Homo sapiens: one gene and its partners. The protein of the gene in region 2 purifies or fractionates together with the protein of the main gene of each other region. This does not show direct contact. Each region holds a gene or a part of one and is shown on either strand. Other genes may lie near its edges.

Region 1 (3,081 bases), on a different chromosome or scaffold from region 2:
CAATCGTGGCTCATAGCAACCTCCACCTCCCAGGTTCAAGCAATTCTCCTATCTCAGCCTCCCGAATAGCAGGGACTACAGACGCTCACCACCACGGCTGGCCAACTTTTTTTTTTTGAGACGGAGTCTCACTCTGTCACCCAGGCTGGAGTGAAGTGGCATGATCTTGGTTCACTGCAACCTCCGCCTCCCAGGCTCAAGCGATTCTCCTGCCTCAGCCTCCCAAATAGCTGGGATTACAGGCATGCACCACCATGCCTGGTTAATTTTTTATTTTTAGTGGAGACGGGGTTTCACCATGTTGGCCAGGCTGGTCTTGAACTCCTGACCTCAGAAGATCCGCCCAGCTTGGCCTCCCAAAGTTCTGGGATTATAGGCGTGAACCACCACGCCCTGCCTAATTTTTGTATTTTTAGTAGAGACGGGGTTTCACCATGTTGGCCAGGCTGGTTTCTTTCTTTTTTTTTTTTTTTTGAGACAGACTTTTGCTCTTATTGCCCAGGTTAGAGTGCAGTGGCACAATCTCAGCTCACTGCAACCCCCGCCTTCCGGTTTCAAGCAATTCTCCTGCCTCAGCCTCCCAAGTCGCTGGAATTACAGGCGCCTGCCACCACGCCCAGCTAATTTTTTTGTATTTTTAGTAGAGATGGGGTTTCACCATGTTGGTCAGGCTGGTCTCGAACTGCTGACCTCGTGATCCACCAGCCTCGGCCTCCCAACATGCTGGAATTACAGGCGTGAGCCACTGCGCCTGGTGAGACTGGTTTCAAACTCCCGACCTCAAGCAATCCGCCCACCTCAGCCTCCCAGAGTGCTGGGATTACAGGCATGAGCCACTGCGTCTGGCCCAGTCTTCCCCTATTCTCTGGACCACAGTTTGAAAATCACAGACAGGTCAACCTAGATCCTTCCAGCTCTAGTTTTCTACTGTGTTCTTTCCTCTTGAGAAGTTACAGCTCATCATGGGCCCTTAATAACAGAATTCAACAGAAGGCATCATCTGAAAACAAAGTCAATTCAGAAACTGTTGTTGCAAGAAGGCAAACAGAAAAACGGCACCATGTCCCACTGGAATCTCTTTCAGCGATGGAGAGTTTTGTTTTCTGGTAAAAAATATAGAAATAGTGGTTGTCCTTGAGGGGACTTGTGGTTTGGTTCTAAACCTCCCCATGGAGCCGAGTGGTGTCCCTGAGGGTGAGGAGGGCAGAGGTCTCTGCTCAGAGCTGCTCTGAGCCCATCCGCAAGTTTTTGATCTCCAGTTCCAACTGTTTGGCCTGGACCTCTCGCTGGGTCAACAGCTCCCGGAGCCTTCGGATCTCCTCCTGTTGCCGGTAGAACATCTGCAGCAACTGGGGAAGAAAGATCGGAAGGCAGGATCACCATGGTGTCAGGACACCAGCTGAAAGCTAAACCACTATCCCTCTTTGACTCAGAAAGGTGGAGGCGGTCACATTAACATGGCTGAGGCCTGATGGGGCTGTCACTGCATAGATCTTTTACAAACACCTTGTTTACTTCACCCAATAAATGAAATTCAAGAAGACTGGAATGTTTCAGATGTATTTTGCTTCCATAGATCCTCCATGAAATAGAGGAAAGGATGCCTGGCTCTGAAGTCTGGGGATTGGTGTTTTCGCCACCACTGAACTGTGTGACCTTGGGCAAGTTACTTACCCACTCTGAGCTTCCATTCCTTCCTCTGGAAAATGGGGTCAGAAAACTGCCCTCTGTGCAGAATGGGTGTTAGATATTGAGTGATGCCCTAAGGGCCTCGTTATCCCACTGGAACGTTGTGACACCCCTATAAGGGTGGCAGTGCTAGTGTCCCCACCGTACCACCGTGGAAACGGAAGCTTAGAGACATTCAGTCTCTGGGTCTAAGACCCTAAATTAGTACTCAGCAGAGCCAGGATCAGAATCCATCTGTGAGATGCCAGCCTCTGTGTTCTTAGCCACTACAGACTGACTTCCAGGGCTGTTGAGAGAATTCAATCACGTGCTGTATCAAAGTGCCTACCCCAGGATCTGCCACACAGTAGGCACTAAACAAATGTGGACTTTGAAAGCACAGAAAGTCCTATAATGTCAGAACTGGAAAGACTTTGATACCCACTAGGTCAAACCCTCTCCATTTTACAGATGGTTTCCCACCATTTTTTTTTTTTTTTTTTTTTTTTTTGAGACAGAGTCTCACTCTGTTGCCCAGGCTGGAGCGCAGTGGTGTGATCCTGGCTCACTGCAGCCTCTGCCTCCTGGGTTCAAGCAATTCTCCTGCCTCAGCCTCCAGAGTAGCTGGGACTACAGGCACGCACCACCATACCCAGCTAATTTTTGTATTTTTAGTAGAGACGGGGTTTCGCCATGTTGGCCAGGCTGGTCTCAAACTTCTGGCCTCAAGAGATCCACCCGCCTTGGCCTACCAAAGTGCTGGGATTACAGGTGTGAGCCACTGCACCTGGTCACCTGGTCCCCACCATCTTTTTTTTTTTTTTTTTTTAAGATGGAGTCTTGCTCTGTTGCCCAGGCTGGAGTGCAGTGGTGTGATCTTGGCTCACTGCAACCTCCACCTCCCAATTTCAAGCCATTCTCCTGCCTCAACCTCTCAAGTAGCTGGGACTACAGGTGTACGCCACCACACCCGGCTAATTTTTGTATTTTTAGTAGAGATGGGGTTTCACTATGTTGGCCATGCTGGTCTTGAACTCCTGACCTCATGATCTGCCCGCCTTGGCCTCCCAAAGTGCTGGGATTACAAGAGTGAGCCACTGTGCCCAGCCTCCCACCATCTTTATGTATGCCCATCATTTTGGCATAAGATGGAGCTCACTGCCTGTTTGTTGAATGAATTAACAAAATGAGTCAAGTGACTAGGCCAGGCCACACAGCTGGTTATTCTTCTCATGCCTCATTTTCTCCCTTCTTCTCAGCCTGGATCTGTTCCCCTCCACCCCAGCTGCCCCATGTGAAAGGCCCACCCCGTCCTCCTTCACACCTCATTCTCTGTCTTTGGTGGGGGGCATTCGAAAACGTCAAAGCCATTTGTCAGCCAGGTTTTCTTCTCCTCCAGCCTGTGTTCTGCTG
Region 2 (5,692 bases):
AGACATGAGCACGACCCGTTACAGAAGTTTGTGCTTTCCAAAAAAAAAAAAAAAAAAAAAAAAAAAACAGTTACTAAACGTGAAAAAGGAACCCAAGCAAAGAGGAAGGAGTTGGGGAGGGGCCACCAAAGCCCCTGGGCCCCATCCATAGCCCTGACCTGAACCGCGCCTAGGGCCTCCAACCTGGGACCTGCCCGGCAGGAGACGGGGGGTAGCCGAGGGGCCCCAGCTGGGCCTGCTACTTCCTTTGGGCCAGACAGGAAGGGGTCAAAAGAAGGGCGGGGAGGGGGTCCCAGGGAGCCAGAGCCCACGAGCCATTTATTGCCATGTTTTAAAATTCGTGCAAAATATCTGAAGCCCTGGACAGAGAATACAAAGTGATATTTTCCCAAGAAACATAAAACTAGGAAAAGAGGTGGGGGACATTTTCCCACCAGAGCTCCCCCCACGCCAGGCCCCAAGCAGGGTGAGGCCTCCAACCCGGCCAGCTGAGCAGGGAGGACTAAGAGCTACAATCTGGACCAGGGAAGGAGGGGTGGAATTTGCAACAGCGTCTCAACTACCAACGAGAGGAAAGCCAGTCAACTGTACAAGTCTCCTATCAACTTTTTAAAAAAAGAGAAAAGCTGTAAAAGTCAGGCCCTGTGGGTAGGGAAGCGGCCAAGTCCCCAGCCAGGGCCGGAATCCGGAGTGGGTGCCAGGCGGAGCTGCTGCGAATGCAGGCACGGCGGGCCGTCTGGCCAGAGGCTGATGCAGGTGGGCGGCCTTGGCAAGGGTAGCCTAGGGCTGGCGCCACCGCTAATCACCACCCTCGAAGCCCTCCTCCTCTTCTGGAACTGGGTCTGCATCCCAGCATGTGATGTCGATCTCTGTGGCGTTAGAAAGGGAGAGGAGTTAGGGACCTAGCAGACCGCTTGTGTCCCCAGCCTCTGTGAGCGGTGGGTAGTGGTGGGGTGGCTACCCACACTCAAATCCAGCCCCCGCACCCAAATTCCTCCCCATCATCCAGCCCAGTACTACCTGGAGGCTTGTTGTAGAACACAGGAGGCGGAGCCTTGGCACAGAGCTCTTCCGATTGGGCAAACTCCTCCTCCTGTGATTGACTGAAGTACCCCTCACTGGCCTGCAGGGGAAAGCATCAGGTCACTTGGCCCCACCCAGCAGGACTGGGGCTGACCTATCAGGCCTGAGCCCGTTTCCCCAGCAACCAATGATTCCATCAGTGGTTGCCAGGGAAACAAGGATGCCTGCCTTGGGAACAAAAGCAGAGCCGGCCCAGGGAGGGAGGGTGGGATGGACTTCCCCTCAAATAATGTGGGTCACAGAGAAGGGGGTACTGGTGCAAGCATGAGGAATGCAGGGCCAGCACCCTGCTCAGCCCCCACTCCCTCCCATCCCTCCCACCAGGCAGTCCCTGCCGCACCTGGGTCCCCTCCTTCTGGGTGGTCTCGCCATTGGTTAGCAGGTGGGGCTCCGGCTCCTGCTCTTGCTCCAGCTCCTCAAGGGCTGAGGGCAGAGTTGGGGTCTGGGGGGCAGCCAGGGACTCCCCTTCCACTTCCTCTGGGTCACAGAAGGTGGCTGGCGGCTCAGGCAGCTCATCAAAGTTGAGAAGGGTGGCACAGCCTTCGCCTGCTGGCAGCAGTGGCTCCGGAGCCACCTCATCCAGCAGGGGCACCTCTGCCAGGGTGACCTCAGTACCCGAGGGTGGCGTGGGGGCCCTGGGCTCACCCTGGAGTGTGGAGGCCCCTTCCCCGTTGCCAGGCCATAGGTCAATGAGGCTGGTGGCGGCGGGGGGTACGTTGTTGGCAACAGTGGTGTCAGCAGTGGCAGTGTCAGTTTCAATGGTGTCAGCTGCATCGTGGATCTCCGTGGCGTCAGCTGTGGCAGGCTCCACGGGAGCAGCCAGGACAGCCTGCTCTGCAGACTCCATGAACATCAAGTCCTCTGCAGGGCTGCCTGGCCCCCGGGGAGGCGCCTGTGCCTGAGGGGGCTCCTCCATGGGGCCGGCCCAGGCCTGAGGGGCTGCTGCTCTGGTCTCCTCACTGTCTAGGATGGGGCTGGGCTCCTGGGTCTCTGTCACAGCACAGGCAGAGGAGATATGTAACCGGCTCCCCTCGGGGAGGATGGAGACCCTGCCCACCCACTAAGGAGTGAGGGAGCCAGGGACTTCCATGCAGGTGTCCCACTGCCCCCTTACCCAGTGACCCCAGTGACTTTAAGCCCCTTGGCAGCTCCGGGAGGAAGGCCAAGGCCCGATTCCCACTTGAGAGGGCGGGTGCTAAGCTTTAGAGAGGGCAGGTCTGACTGTACACCAGGGCTCCTCCCCACACAGCCGCCTCCAGGGCAGTGCAGTCTTGGTGATGGGTGGCCCAGATCCCTGGAGAACGGTTACCATGGCAACCTGGGGCTCCCAGCCAGGGACTGATGATGGGAGGCCTGGTGCAGGTAGCATCCCTCTCTCACCTTGGGCTGGTGGGGGTGGCGGTGGCAGTGGTGGAGGCTGCGAGGAGGTGACCTCATCCAGGGCCCGCTCTATCTGCTCAGCGACAGGGGTGGAGGCGGTGCTGGAGTCAGACGGGCTCCGCGTGGGGATGGGAGTGGGCGCCATCCTCCGGTGGCTGTCCAGGTGGCTGCCTGTGGAACAAACCCCAGGTGGGTCAGTGAGGGCGGGGGAGCCGGGTGAGACAGGATTGTCCACCTTGGGGCCTGGCCAGCACCTCCTCTCTGGAATCTGGGTGGGGGCTGGGAGCTCTCCAGCCCCACCAGGGGCCAGACTACAGCTCCAGACCCTGTAAGCTAGGCCCCTGGAGGCCAGTGCCCCATAAGGCCAGGGGCAAGAGGCAGGCAGTGCCTGCCCTGGGGGCAAACACCAGAGATCAGCGGTCAGACTGGGGGAGTGAGGGCGGGGGGCTGCTGGGAAGCGGGGCCCTCCTTACCACCCCCGCCGAGGCCTGGGGCTGCTACCTACATGGGAGGGAGGAAGAGAGGTTTGGGGTGCGGTGGCAGGTGATATAGGGAAAGGGAGTCCGTGGAGGGGAGGAGGAGGAAGAGGAGGAGGAGGAAGGCCCACTGTCCGATGCCTTTATGAAAGGGCAGTACGGACGACCTGCCGAGAGAGACAGACAGAGAAAGAGACAGAGGACAAGAGAGGGTCAGTCTCCCCCACCCCTGCCCGAGGCCTCTCCCGCCCCCAGGGCCTGGCCCTGGATGTCCAAGCTGCCTTCAGCCAGGGGCACAATCAGCCAAGCCAGCCGCAGCCTCACACCAGCCCCAGACACACAGCCAGCCTGGGAGCAGTACAGCAGGGACGGCCTGTGGCGGGACCCCAGCATGGGGCAAGCACACTCAGACCAGCAGACAGGGCAGGGAAGAGCTTCAGGAGAGGCGGAAGCAGCACACTGAGAAGCGGAACGGGGACACCTGGGTGCAAGCTCCGGGAGGCTCCCTCAGGCCCGGGGCAAGAGCCCAGCACGCATGCATTCCGGCCTTCCAGGCCAGACCTAATTCACCCCAGCCGAGCTGCTCCCCGTGGCCAGCGCTGTGCCTCAGCCCATGCCAGAGCTGCCCCACAGGCCCTAGCACTCCCCACTGTTCAGCCACAAGCGACTTCACCACCATCCCTGGCCCTTCTTGGGGTCCTGCCACCTGGGAAGTGGTGGGCGGATGCACGCTGGATGAAGGGTCTCGCCTTCTCCAAGGGTTGCTTGGGCAAGGCCTCCCTTCTGAGAGAGTCCCAGAGAGGCTCAGGGCCGCAACCTGAGGAGTGGGGCCGGACGGGGGGTGGGGCCTAGGACTACCTGGTCGATGGTTGAAGGGCGAGGGTACATCACAGCTGCCCGCAGAGGCCGATGCGACTCTTTCCTGCTGCTTGAAGAACTCCCTTGGGTTGTCAGGCCGCTGGGCAATAATAGCTGCTGCCTCCTGAGGGCACGAGGAAAAGGTTGGGGCTGGGCCAGGCAAGCTGAGATAGCCCTGTCTGCCTCACCTGGCTGGTGCCCCCAGCTCTCACCTCCACCTCCGACTCTGACTTCTTCATGTGGGTCTCTTCCTCCTCATCCCGATGGTCACCCTAGAAACCAAAGGGACAGTGTCTGGTGCACCTACCCCCCACAGGGGCTTTTGGCCTTCTTTTTTACTGTATTTTATTTATTGATTTTGTTTTTAAGACAGGTTCTCGCCCTACCACCCAGGCTGGGGAGCAGTGGTACAATCACGGCTCACTGCAGCCTCTGCCTCCTGGGCTCAAGCAATCCTCCCACCTCAGCCTCCCGAGTAGCTGGGACTACAGGTGTGCACCACCATGCCCGGCTAATTTTAATTTTTTGGTAGAGATGGGGTCTCCCTATGTTGCCCAGGCTGGTCTCAAACTTCTGGGCTGAAGGGATCCTCCTGCCTTGGCCTCCCAAAGTGTTGGGATGGATTACAGTCATGAGCCACCAGTGCCCGGCCTTCTGGCCTTCTTTTTTTTTTTTTTTTTTTTTTGAGACGGAGTCTCGCTCTGTCGCCCAGGCTGGAGTGCAGTGGCGGGATCTCGGCTCACTGCAAGCTCCGCCTCCCGGGTTCACGCCATTCTCCTGCCTCAGCCTCCCAAGTAGCTGGGACTACAGGCGCCCGCCACTACGCCCGGCTAATTTTTTGTATTTTTAGTAGAGACAGGGTTTCACCGTTTTAGCCGGGATGGTCTCGATCTCCTGACCTCGTGATCCGCCCGCCTCGGCCTCCCAAAGTGCTGGGATTACAGGCGTGAGCCACCGCGCCCGGCCCCTTCTGGCCTTCTTACAGCCCCCATGCTTCTTTCGCAATCTGGCAGGAAGGGTTTCAGAGGTGGTACCTCTGCCCCGTCAAACCCTGTCACACAGCCCCTCTCTTCCCTCAGGGCCCTCAGCCACCTCATCTCTGACCTGCCAGGCCTCTGGGCACCAGGCTCACTCACTCACTTGCTCATCCCCATATCTAAGCAGGTGCCTAGGGCCCTCCAGAAGTGCTCCTTGTTTTGCAGATAACTTCTTGGACCTCCTACCCTAGTGCCGGGGCCACCATGCTCCCAATGTTGCTGCCTGGACCGTGGCATCATGGTCCAGCCTTCCTCACTGCTACCTGCCTTATTTGCTCTCCATAGGCCCTGAAAGGACCTTTCCAAAATGCGGATCAGACCATGATTTTCCTGAGCTTAAAATCCCTCAGGGGTTCCCATGAGCCACAGCAAGCACTGGCTAAATATGACCCACAGATGGCTTTTGTTTTGCTGGTATGATATTTTTAAACCATGTTCATTAGTTACCACCACTTAAAAACCAGGAACTTTCATACTGAGATGAGGGTCCCAGTTTCTCTTGAGGTGACAGAGCCCTGGCGACATCACCTGCAAGCCCGGAGCAGCCATCACCGGGGCCTCGCCGCAGCCCCCTTAAGACAGGCGTGTGCCACCCGCTCACCCCCGGCCCCACCATCGCCTACTGGCTTCACCTGCCCACTGCACACGTTGTTTTGGGTGGGCAGCGCCCGCACTTGGCCTACGTCCCCCACCCCTGCCTGACCTAGCCGTCACCTCTCCAACACCACCCCCTGCCGGCCCCCACCCCAAGGCTCCCACATACTGTGAGATGTAGACATCAAGTCCTCAGCACGACGCAGTCAGTTCCCAGAACAGGCACACCCGTTCCCACCTCCAAGCCTCAGCATGGGAGACTGG
Region 3 (3,095 bases), on a different chromosome or scaffold from region 2:
GCCTCGGCCTCCCAAAGTGCTGGGATTACAGGCGTGAGCCACCGTGCCCGGCCCAACGATGAGCCTTTCTAAAGCTATTTCAGCATCTTTTGTAAAACTGCTACCAAAGACATCCATCTTGTCACATCTCTAATAAAAAGGATTTGAAACCAAATCGCACACAGGAGTGCATTCAACATTTTTCACATGAATGAATACAGTGGCAAGTCTGAGTTTAGTGTCAAGTAAATCAGTACTGGGGTGCTTCTGTTACAGAAAATGAATAACTCATGGCATTTTTATTATTGCTACAACAGTGGCAAATTTTTAATCTAAGCACTCTATAGTCACAATTATTCTTGCCTAGGTTTAAAGCTACTTAAAATCCTTTTTGGACTTAGGCAGACTAATTAACAAATAAATGAATGGGATTCCTAACCTAACACCAGGTACTGAATTATGAAACATTACACAAACAATTAAAAAAACTATAGTAGAAAAACCAACAGAACATACACAACTTAAAGAGAAAAAATTTTTATTGTGATATAAAATGCACTTATAAAATGTCCACCAGAAGGCATGTAATTCTTCACTGCTATATAAATTTACTGGGAATATGTTATTCACCATCTAGGTATGATACTGCCAACTAAAACATACTGTAAACGATGAGTTATACTCTATAACAAATGCATCACTGATTTTCAGCAATCATTGGTTTAATAATAATTAGTTTAAGACTATAATCACATCTATATTCTGGAATGTCCATTTACTTTAATGTAGTGTAGTGGAATTTAGAGTATAATTGCACATAGATGGTACAGAAAAACATTCACTTCTAAATTATTTTATACCTTCATGACAGGTAGTCTTCCTGACTGAAAATAACAGCTTCAGCTATGGTCTGCTCCAGGATTCTTAATGCAATAATTTGGGTGTATGTGTGTCTGTCTACGTGTACACCCATGGAACAACTTATATCTTTAGTAAACAAGTGCAACATTATTGTCAGTTATTTTGCATGTTTAAATATTATAGTCTGATTATTTGTAAACAAACAAAACCCCAAATACTCTAAATTCTATTTTAAAAATCTGTCAACCCACAATTATTCTAATATGCTTTACTTACTCGAACACAAATTTCTGAAAGGTGCATATATTACCTTAGATAATAAGGTTTAGAAATGAGTGCTTCACACTATGAAATGTGCATTTCCGATAAGTGATTTATGCAGCATAAAGTTTAGATCAAGAAATTACAAATCCTGGATCCCCACAGTTCATTTAGAAAATGCCTCAAAGTTATGGCTCTTGCAGCAGGTTTAACAGATTAAACATTAAGTGTTCTAGCTCCCTCTATTTCAAGTATCAAAGAAATATGAGGCTCAAAATCTCTCTAGGTTGTAACTGATAATGCAAAGCATTAGAAAACAGTTAAATGTGTTTTGAAATACAGTATTAACTGAGATTATTAAGGTGTTTATCTACGTTAGCCTGTTAAGTACCAGGACTTTAAAGTAATTTTAAATCTGAGTATTTGCTCGGAAGTGATAAAGAACACAATTTGCCCATAAATGTATGGTTTTGGAGAAAAAAGTCAATCCTGATTTTTAAAACTCAACATTTTTTGTTTCCTTTTGAATGATATTAATTTAAATTTCAATCTGAACATAAATGTTTGGCCTCACAGAGCATTAGAAAGATAATTTACTAAGGCTGTTTAAAGTCTTTCAATGTCATCAGAAATCCTGCAGTATAGAAAATATCTGGTACCCTTAAAGTTTCAGAGTGAGCTGATCTGCAATTTTAATGCTATTAAAAAAAAGTCAAATATAAAAGACTGCTGCAATATAAAGCACTATTTCTAAAAGTTGCAGACATGATCCTACAGTCTGACAGAGCTAGCACAGCTACTCGGAGTAAGCAACTTGCGGCCTTTTCCAAGGCACACTAAGTTTCCAGCTTAGAAAATACTCTAGCCTGGTCCTTAACATATTCATTAAGTAATATGAATATTTTAAGGTCTTTCTGTCCCACAAGAAAGTAGTAAGTTTACCCTTTGAGACATCAGACTTTCTAGAACTGGCCCAACTGTATAAAATTTTAAGAAGTATTTGAAGTGTGGAATCAACGCTATGAAAACAGTGTGACAAAATTAAACATTATGTTGAACCCTTTTCTAGCTTTAACTCAAAAATAGAAATCATGAGTCTTCTATAACATTAATTTTAAAAACACACAGAAGTGAAAAGTGCTATTTTCCAAAAAGTACAATTTTTTTCCCTACTTTATATCAACATGGAATGATTTCAGTTCTCCTGTACTAAAAGCTGGACTTTTAAAAAACTAGTATTACAATGTTTAATGTGATGACTTTAATCAGTAGTAGCTTCAGTTTCCGCTGGGCCCCTAATTAGTCTTCGAATTCCTCTTTTTCCTGCAGGACCTTTTGGTTTTGCAAAACTTTGCTTGTGTGCATGCTGCTTGGGATGTACTTCTTCATAAAGGAAGTCTGCAGTCAACTCATCCCCATTGTCTATCTCGATCTGTAAAAGATAAAATTAGAAGCACAACATTCAAAACCTAATACAAGCAACAAGCTGGTTTTCAGGTATATGAATGCTCACAAATAATACCCTTTCCAGTAAGGCAGAATCAAGGACCATATGTAAACAGTTTCACTTTCTTCTTTTGGGGGAAGGGGCTAAATGAGTTACTTGAATATATAATCAGCTACATTCACTTCCTTCTTGGTTCTTTCTTAGTGCTCCAGTTTAAATAATGTTTAAAAGTAGAAGCCACCACTACATTCTCAAGTTGCTATGATACACTATTTATTCAAGGAACATTTACTCATGACCCTTTCATCACTTGGGTCACTTGAAAGCCCTCTACAAGAGAGGTAAACAAACCATGGCCCGAAGGCCAAATCTTGCCCAAGGTAAGATTGTTTTACATTTTTTAAGGGTTGTTAAACAACAATAAGAATATATGACAGAGATTATATGTGGCTTGGCAAAGCCTTTACTTACTATTTGGTCCTCTGTAGAAAGTCAGCTGATCCCTGCTATAGAAGGTGCTACCCATGATAAAGTGATTGATTCTTAG
Region 4 (3,133 bases), on a different chromosome or scaffold from region 2:
AACCTTAGGCTTGAGAGACCAAGCGGTTTGCCCAAAGTTACCCAGCTAAGGAAGTGTGGAGCCAAGTGTCCAGGTTTCTTGACTCCAAATCCAGTGCTCTTCCCCCTATATAGTCTATAATTGGCAGGCAATTGAATGAATTGCCCATGATCATATACCTGCTAAGTGTTGGTGATGGGATTAGGTTTCAGTCTCCAAATCTGTTAGTACGGTGCCCCTTCACCATACCAACTAACTGGGCCAATGTGCTCAGAATGTCTACCATGGAAGAGATCAGAAGAACATCTAGTTAGTTAACTACTCTTTTCTATGTCTAGGTCATCAGTTCTCTCCTTCATCCTCCCCCAAGTCAACAATGTATCCCAACTGGCAAAGCCTCTAAAACATGCACTATTCCTAGAACAGAACCCAGAGTCAGGTTACAAATTTAAACTTGCAACTCCTCTTCCATTGGTCTACTGATTATTCAGTCATTGCTATTACAGACAGATGGGAAAGAGATAAGCTGAGCAAATCTCAGTTCTGCCATTAAACAAATGTAAACCTTTAATTTCCATCATCCTTCCCCACCTCGGTCAGCAATTTGACTTCTTAACTCCTGAACTACAAAGTAAAATCCAATCTGATCTAGGGTTAGGGAGCAATAAAGCAGTGAATAATATCCCTGAAGTTCTTGGCGCTTTTCTCTGGCTAGTATATTACAACAGGAGGCCCTATCGTCTGATTTTCATCCAGTGGGCTCAGCTGGATGCTTCCAAGCACTCTCACACCTTTCCTTTGTGTGCATCTCAGTACTTTAGCTTTAGGATTGGTTGAGTAGCAGGGATATTTGAGATGAAAGCAATAAGAGGAGGTAAAGGGAAGCTGCAAGTGGAAGGCAGAGCTAGGACCTTTCCTCTTAGTTCTCTGCTCGTTAAAATGAAAACAGCTATTATTGCATCATTAGTGGAAGAGGGGAAGGAAGCTTCAGGATCATGACTTAAAACCTGACTCCAGAAACACTTCTACTGAATACAGGTAACATAGCACAGAACCTAGTGTTCTCAACTTCCCGCCCTCTGCCCATTTTTGCTGATGCTATAAATACTTGAATTAAATATGGGATCTTCTTTGTAAAAAAGGCACTCAGTCTACTCCCCAATCTCAGAAACACATATAAAATTATATTAGTCCAGAATTTTTATGCTTCCTCTGTCTTCTTCGTAGTGCCTAGGAGGGGGCTGAGTACATCATATCTGTGAAGAAGGAAATAGCTGCACATGTGTTTGTAAATTCCAAAGGGCTATCTTACACTTAAAGCATGCTGATGCTTAATATTGGTTTTAAGAATTTTCAGTTTGAGCATCTGAAATGTTCTCATGGCAGCTATTCGGAGGACATTGGTTTCCCTAATGCTGGTGCCCTGTCAGGGGCCATGTTTCTGTTGGAAGAGAAGCACCTGCTCTTTGGGCTGGTGTGCCAGTCTTCCCTTAGGGAAATTGGTTTGAGGAGTACAGGCACTGGGATGATTTCTGAGTTTTTAAATGAATGGGCTTTTATTGTAAGATGAACTGCATGCCCCTCCAGGTTGGTAATCTTCTAACCTGGGCCTGCAGCAACTTGGACAGGGACGAGGGAAGCAGGGCTGGGAGACAGCATCTCCCTCCAGTCAATTTTCCAGATGAAGCCAAATACCCCATTATGGTATTTGATGATCTTTATGTACAAAATATTTATATACAATGTGCCCTACAAAGATGGAAGAAAGGGGCTTCATCATGTTGATGAGGATGGAATGTTAAATACATTAGGCAAATGGATAGATTTGGTGCTAGAACAACTAAATGATTTCTAGGCTTCTAATATTTATTTCCTAAGAGTCATCCTCTACATAGCTATAAAATGTGGTGGTTGGTAACATAAACTGCAAAGCCTAGGGAGTAATTTCATATTTAACCTGGGCCTGCAGCAATTCTAAAAAGGACAAGGGAAGAGGACTGGGGAGAGAGCATCTCCCTTCAATCAGTTGTCCAGATGTAGCCAAATACCTAGTTAGATATCTGACAGTACACACACACATACACACACGACACTTATTTACATTATACCCTCCAAAGATGAAAGAAACGAAGTCATTTAATCATGCTGATGAGGATGAAAGAGCTTCCAGTTATACACTATAAGCAGATGGGGAGCTGCAGTGCTGAACTAATCATATGATTTCTAGACTTCTAAGGTTTTTCTCCTAAATGTCATCTACATGTGCCATAATAGATGTTGGTGATACAAGCCCACAAGTCCAGGTGAGTGATTTTACACTTAAAGTGGACCTGCACAACTCTAAAAGGGGGAGGGAGATAGGCCTGGGGAGAAGTTATCTCCCTTCAGTCAGTTATCCAGATATTGCCAAATATCTCAACACAGTATCTGGCAGAACAAATACATAGAAAAATATTTTATATACATTATGCCCCATCACAATGGATAGCAAAGGATTAACTGTGCCCATGATCATGAAAGAGCTACCACTTCCACACTTTGGGCAGAGAGGGAGATGAAGTCCTAGGCTAATTAAATGATGGATAGGCTCCTCAAGTGTATGTTTTTCTAAGGGTTATCATCAATATGTGCACACTCATGGAAATGCCACCTTTCAAGCCACTTTAAAAACACAGGTAATAAGAAAACAAACTGATTAGTAAAAAACATTTGATTTCATAGACTCTGTTGCATGCAACCCAACTATTTCATAAGGTAAAAACAGTGCTATATTTTTGATAATGTCCCATTATCTTGCTTTAATACTATCAACAACTGCTTGTACAAAAGAAACAGCCATGATTGAATTCTGATTCTTTTTTTCTTGCTTTCTGCCAGAGTTTGCCAAGAACTGCTTTAGCCCCCAGCCCACAGCACTGTGGGGCTGCAAGGAATGCTCTATAGGGTCCAGGATTTTAAGAGTCAAGGCAAGAATGAGAGTAAGAAAAAAAAAAAAAAAAAGGAAAAAGGCTTACTTGGAGAGGCAGGTCAGGGACTCAGCACTTAAACAGGTTTGTAACAAATCCAAAGAGGAGAAAAGACATCTAAGAGAAATGTTCTTCCCTTCGGCAACATGATAAGCGAAACATATGTATAAAAAAATGTATAATTTCAC

Evidence for each region. Proteins that work in one complex are often made in the same cells at the same time.
Region 1: the proteins of DBN1 (region 2) and CORO2A purify together in Homo sapiens (co-immunoprecipitation; 2 studies listed by BioGRID and IntAct, with this or other methods). This does not show direct contact.
Region 3: the proteins of DBN1 (region 2) and TWF1 purify together in Homo sapiens (affinity purification with mass spectrometry; 3 studies listed by BioGRID and IntAct, with this or other methods). This does not show direct contact.
Region 4: the proteins of DBN1 (region 2) and TMOD2 purify together in Homo sapiens (affinity purification with mass spectrometry; 2 studies listed by BioGRID and IntAct, with this or other methods). This does not show direct contact.

Annotation. Positions count from the first base shown.
Region 1 is NC_000009.12:98,123,557-98,126,637, forward strand, and holds part of CORO2A (coronin-2A), read right to left. Parts: coding exon 2,993-3,081; intron 1,350-2,992; coding exon 1,218-1,349; 3' UTR 1-1,217.
Region 2 is NC_000005.10:177,456,635-177,462,326, forward strand, and holds part of DBN1 (drebrin), read right to left. Parts: exon of another isoform or gene 5,598-5,692; intron 4,070-5,597; coding exon 4,010-4,069; intron 3,922-4,009; coding exon 3,798-3,921; intron 3,107-3,797; coding exon 2,969-3,106; intron 2,635-2,968; coding exon 2,464-2,634; intron 2,074-2,463; coding exon 1,424-2,073; intron 1,124-1,423; coding exon 1,021-1,123; intron 870-1,020; coding exon 799-869; 3' UTR 1-798. UniProt on the Homo sapiens protein: Actin cytoskeleton-organizing protein that plays a role in the formation of cell projections. Required for actin polymerization at immunological synapses (IS) and for the recruitment of the chemokine receptor CXCR4 to IS.
Region 3 is NC_000012.12:43,793,223-43,796,317, forward strand, and holds the end of TWF1 (twinfilin-1), read right to left. Parts: intron 2,929-3,095; exon of another isoform or gene 2,753-2,928; intron 2,599-2,752; exon of another isoform or gene 2,580-2,598; intron 2,534-2,579; coding exon 2,363-2,533; 3' UTR 501-2,362; downstream 1-500. UniProt on the Homo sapiens protein: Actin-binding protein involved in motile and morphological processes. Inhibits actin polymerization, likely by sequestering G-actin. By capping the barbed ends of filaments, it also regulates motility.
Region 4 is NC_000015.10:51,810,597-51,813,729, reverse strand, and holds part of TMOD2 (tropomodulin-2), read right to left. Parts: 3' UTR 1-3,133. UniProt on the Homo sapiens protein: Blocks the elongation and depolymerization of the actin filaments at the pointed end. The Tmod/TM complex contributes to the formation of the short actin protofilament, which in turn defines the geometry of the membrane skeleton.